2 separate regions of the Homo sapiens genome follow, and region 2 is linked to region 1. A link means that fine-mapping ties the variant in region 1 to the expression of a gene that starts in the linked region. Tissue or cell type: whole blood. Region 1 holds a variant in brackets; the other region holds the start of a gene. All regions are shown on one strand. Distances are between the middles of the regions.

Region 1 (2,760 bases):
GATCTGGGGACCATTATCCTAAGCAAACTAATGCAGGAACAGAAAACCAAATACCATATGTTCTCACTTAAAAGTGCGAGCTAAACAACGAGAACACATAGACACAAAGAGGGAAATGACACACACGGACCTACTTGAGGGTGGAGGGTAGGAGGAGGGAGAGGATCAGAAAAAAAAATAACCTGTTGGGTACTGTGCTTATTATCTGGGTGACTAAATAATCTGTACACCAAACCCCTGTGACATGCAGTTTACCTGAATAACAATCCTGCACCTGTACCCCTAAACCTAAAATTAAAGTTAAAAAAAAAAGCTTTAAAAATGTCTAGTACACACCAGTGTTCATTGTAGCATCATACACAATAGCCAAAAGAGGAAAACAACTCAGGTATCCATCAACAGATGAATGGATAAACAAAATGTGGTCTATACATACAATGCAATATTATTCAGCCTTAAACGGAAGGAAATTGTGGCACATGCTACAACATGGATGAACCTTGAAGCCATTATGTTAAGGGCTGATGGTTGCATAACAATATGGATGTACTTAATTGCACTGAATTACACAACGTCTCACTCTATTGCTTGGGCTGGAGTGCAGTGGCGCAAAATTTCGGCTCACTGCAGCCTTGATCACCGGGGTTTAGGTGATCCTCCCACCTCAGCCTCCCAGGTAGCTGAGACTACAGGCATGCGCCCACCACACCCTGCTAATTTTTTGTATTTTTAGTAGAGACAGGGTTTTGCCATGTTGTGCAGGCTGGTCTCAATCTCCTGGGCTCAAGCAATCTGCCTGCCTTGGCCTCCCAAAGTGTTGGGATTACAGGGGTGAGCCACTGTGCTCAGCCTATTTTACCACAGTTTAAAAAAATAATTAAAAATAATCTTAATCCCAGCACTTTGGGAGGCCGAGGCGGGCAGATTACTTGAGGCCAGGAGTTTGAGGCGAGCCTGGCCAACATGGTGAAACCCCGTCTCTACTAAAAAATACAAAAATTAGCCGTACGTCGTGGCCCACGTCTGTAATCCCAGCTACTTGGGAGGCTGAGGCATAAGAATTGCTGGAACCCAGGAGGCGGAGGTTGCAGGGAGCCAATATTGTACCACTGCACTCCAGCCTGGACGACAGACAGACCTAGACTCTGTTTCAAAAAACAAACAAACAAACAAACAAACAAACTTTATATATATGCAACCTATTTTAATTACATTACTTTAGCTCTCTATATAAATGACTTCACAAAACGATTTAATACTATATTTTTGTATTTTTAACAAAGTCAGTAAGATAGTGATTTGAAGACAATTATGGCTGGGTGTAGTGGCTCACGCCTGTGATGCTAGCAATTTGGGAGGCCAAGGCAGGTGGATCACTTGAGGTCAGGAGTTTGAAACCAGCCTAGCCAACATGAAGAAACCCTGTCTCTACTAAAAATATTTTTAAAAATTAGTCAGGCATGGTGGCGGGCTCCTGTAATCCCAGCTACTTGGGAGGCTGAAGCAGAATCACTTGAACCCAGGAGGTGGAAGTTGCAGTGAGCCAAGATCCCATAATTGTACTCCAGCCTGGGCAACAAGAGCAAAACTTTATCCTCCGCCCCCCGACCACCCCCCCTCGCCCAAAAAAAGACAATTTCTGCAT[C/T]TTATGTTTATGAGAGTCACTTAATTCAATATATGGCTGTTGGTGACAATGTACGTTGTACTGTAAAATGTCTGAGTGATACATTCTCCCTTGACTTTGGTTCTAGGTAAGTTTGCTTTCATGGTGAATTGCTGCCTGCTTTCTTTATAAGAAGAACTCTATTTACCTTTCTGCTTTGACTGTCAGGAACTGAGACACCTTTTATGCTGAATTGAAGTGATTAGCTGGTCAAACCAGTATTTCCCTGGAGAATCATTAACCATCATTAAATAAATAATATCCTGTTCCTATTCACTTTGAACACCATGAGTGAAGTGGCTTGGTTGGAGTACAGTGTCTGAAATTGAGACTGCTGGCTTTTGTGACTTTGGACCTTGTCCAAATACTTTAACAGCATGATTCTTCCTCTTGTTGTGCCCCATTTCTAGAAAATGATTTCCTGTATCTTTGAGGTTTCTCTAATGTTACGGGAAGTCAGGGACCCTAAACGGAGGGACCGGCTGGAGCCGTGGCAGAGGAACATAAACTGTAAAGATTTCATGGACATTTATCAGTTCCCAAATAATACTTTTATAATTTCTTATGCCTGTTTTTACTTTAATCTCTTAATCCTGTTATCTTCATAAGCTAAGGATATACGTCACCTCAGGACCACTGTGATAATTGTGTTAACTGCACAAATTGATTGTAAAACATGTGTGTTTGAAAAATATGAAATCAGTGCACCTTGAAACAGAACAGAATAACAGCGATGATTAGGCAACAAGGGAAGACAACCATAAGGTCTGACTGCCTGTGGGGTCGGGCAAAAAGAGCCATATTTTTCTTCTTGCAGAGAGCCTGTAAATGGATGTGCAAGTAGGAGCGATATCACTAAATTCTTTTCCTAGCAAGAAATATTAATATTAATATCCTGGGAAAGGAATGCATTCCTGGGGGGCGGTCTATAAACGGAGGCTCTGGGAGTGTCTGTCTCATGTGGTTGAGATAAGGACTGAGATACGCTCTGGTCTCCTGCAGTACCCTCAGGCTTACTAGGGTGGGGAAAAACTGCCCTGGTAAATTAGTGGTCAGACCAGTTCTCTGCTCTCAAACCCTGTTTTCTGTTATTTAAG
Region 2 (2,623 bases), 240 kb after region 1:
TTGAATTCCCCCTCCCTTCTCACCGAAGATCTAGGTCTTCCAGGCTCTCTTTCTAAATCTTCCACGAGAGTCACTGCCTCCTCTCCATTTTCTGGACATTGTTCCTGTACCCAATTCTGGATCTCCCCAGGTAAGACGGTCAGGAACTGCTCTAGCACCAACAGTTCTACAATCTGCTCCTTGGTGCGCACCTCCGGCCTTAGCCACCGACAGCAAAGTTCCCAGAGTTGGCTGAAAGCCTCCCGCGGCCCAGCCACCTCCTGGTAATGGAATCTCCTGAAACGCTGTCGGAAGGTCTCAGAGTTAGTGCCATTCTCTCTTAGAGCTGATTTGGCCATCATTAATAGCAGAATGCAGCTTCCCTTCGCTTAGGAGTCTGGGTTCCAGGGCTTACATCTATCTTCCCATGTCCTTGGAGAATCCCCTGCAGATGACTGTAAGAGGTGTTTCTTCCTAGGGCAGAGAAAGATGGCACTATCAGAAGGAATACATTCATATGTCTAAAGTCTTGCCAGAGCTGGCCTGCCTTTCCATGTGCTCCGAGTGGCCTTCTAAGGTAGCACAATCTTCAGTAAATAGACTTTGCAAAAACTGCTTTTCTGGTTGACTTCCAGGGCAGCCCCAGGAAGCAGCAGAGAATAAAAGTACTGTCTGCCCCTCTCCCACCTCCTCCAAATCCGATCCCATTTAACTTCCCTGGCCAATGTTGCACAGTGAGTCCGAACCATATAGGAGAGCTGGAGTTCGAGAGGATCTAAAGACAAGTCACCATCCTGCTTGAAGGCAACAAAAAGCCTCTGTCCAGCTGGTCGCAGCTGATCTCCCCCAGTATCTCCGCAGTCCTTCCCGAGGCCTTCTGCGTCCGCCCCGCCCCCTCGGGCTGCACAACTCCCAAAGCCCACCCCAGGCAAAAATCACGTCCAGAATCTCGGGTCTTTGTTTTCCCCGCGTAGTAGTAGCCGCTCAGCAAGGATTAGGGAGCTACCTGTCGGAAAACCTCGCGCAAGGAGAGAAGCTGGTTTTGGCTCCAAAGCGAGGACCATGGGGGCTTGGGGAGAGTCACATTGGGCAGGAGAGACGGAATCCGAGGAGCAGTAGTAACGGGCTTCCTGAGGACGGGCTCGGGTGTCGGCCAGAGGCTCCAGGTGCTGCCGGTTCGCGGACGCAGAGCTCTCAGCCCAAGGAGCAGCGGCTGCGGGATTCTGGCCTCTTTTGTCTCCGCTCCCTCCGGCCGGGTAACCCGGAGCCGTCGTGCGGTCCCTCCAGAGGCCTCTGACCCGGCTAAGGCGCCCTGAGGGCGCCCTCCAGCCCACCCCTGGGAGCGTCTCCCTCTCGAGCTGCCCCTCAACCCCCTCGCATCCTTGCCTCCGGGCCAGCCTCACCCACTCGGGGTCCGACCCTGACCCCGGCCCCGGCCCCGGCCCCGGCCCCGGCTCTCCAGCCTCCCAAGTACAGCTCCCAAACCGGAAGTCCGAGCGGGCGGCTCGGGGCACCGAGGGCGCATGCGCGAGGGCAGCGACCGCGACTCAGTCTCCGCAGAGCCCGGGCGGGAGTAGCTGGTGGACCCCGTTGAGCTGCCGAACTTCCGGGACTCCCCCGCGACCCCTTCCCAGCTTCCCGTCCGCTCCGCCGCAGCGATTGTCTCGGTGGGTTGATTCGGCACAAACCGCCCGACCCAGGGGCCGGTGCGCGTGTGGAAGGGGAAGCACTCCCCTCGTGGTCGCCTGGAGGTGCGCTGGAGGAGGGGGTGACATAACCAGGGACTCGAGGTCCGCCGTGGGAATGATCCACGAACTGCTCTTGGCTCTGAGCGGGTACCCTGGGTCCATTTTCACCTGGAACAAGCGGAGTGGCCTGCAGGTACTGTCCGGCGCAGAGCGCGGGAACCAGGGAGCGCAGGAGGGGGGACCTGAGCCAGCGCCTGGGGGAGTAGGCTGAGGGACCTAGCGAGCGGGGCTTCCAGGGCTGGGGGCGTATCCCTGGACAGGTGACTGGAGGGCAGCCCCTTAGGGTCAAGGCTGATGCGACACCTAGAGAGGCCGGGCCTAGGCTAGAAAACGGAGGGCAGACCTCGAAGAGCCCCACCTGTGGCGGGGCGAGGAAAGGGCCTGAGGTCCAGGTGTCTGACAGTTGCTGGGGAATGATATAGAAGTGTGGGAGGCACTTTCTCCTATTTATTTTCACACGTGCATTGTTTGAGTTTTGAAGTACTGGGCCAAATACACAGCTCCCAAACACATGGTAAGCGCTCAGTAAAGTTTGTTGAAGGAAATAAATGAAATCGAGAGCGTGTGGTGTTTCCCTCATTACTCCTTTACCAGAAAATTTCTGCACTAGGTAAAGCACTTGGTAGGGGGCCTTTGTGTAACCAGGAATGTATGATGTTCCGTATGCATTATCTTATTTAATCCTCACAACCACCTTATCCATTTTACAGATTAAGCTAGGTTTAGAATAGTTAAATAACTATCGGGGTCATAGCTAGTAATTAACAGAGCTTAGTTTTGAAGCCAGGTCTGTCTGGCTTCAGTATTTGAACTACTTTTACCTGCTTCTGCTTCCAGTAATGTTATCTAATGCTCTCAATAATTTAGTCCACTTAGGTATTGTTTCTACCAGTTAA

What was found. PIP is the estimated chance that this variant, and not a neighbour inherited with it, causes the effect.
Region 2: it holds the start of ZSCAN29, and the variant in region 1 is fine-mapped to the expression of ZSCAN29 in whole blood (INTERVAL, PIP 0.99).

Annotation. Positions count from the first base shown.
Region 1 is chr15:43,126,017-43,128,776 of GRCh38, forward strand. No RefSeq gene overlaps it. Among named protein-coding and RNA genes, the nearest start is that of TMEM62, 6.2 kb to the right of the region's middle. The variant C/T (reference allele first, on the strand shown) is at 1,646.
Region 2 is chr15:43,369,573-43,372,195 of GRCh38, forward strand. ZSCAN29 (zinc finger and SCAN domain containing 29) reads right to left here and starts at 1,471. Exons shown (of 6, transcript NM_001372080.1): 1 at 986-1,471; 2 at 24-453. The coding sequence starts at 341. TUBGCP4 (tubulin gamma complex component 4) reads left to right here and starts at 1,529. Exons shown (of 18, transcript NM_014444.5): 1 at 1,529-1,860. The coding sequence starts at 1,783. RefSeq lists a silencer at 1,170-1,439 and an enhancer at 1,540-1,659.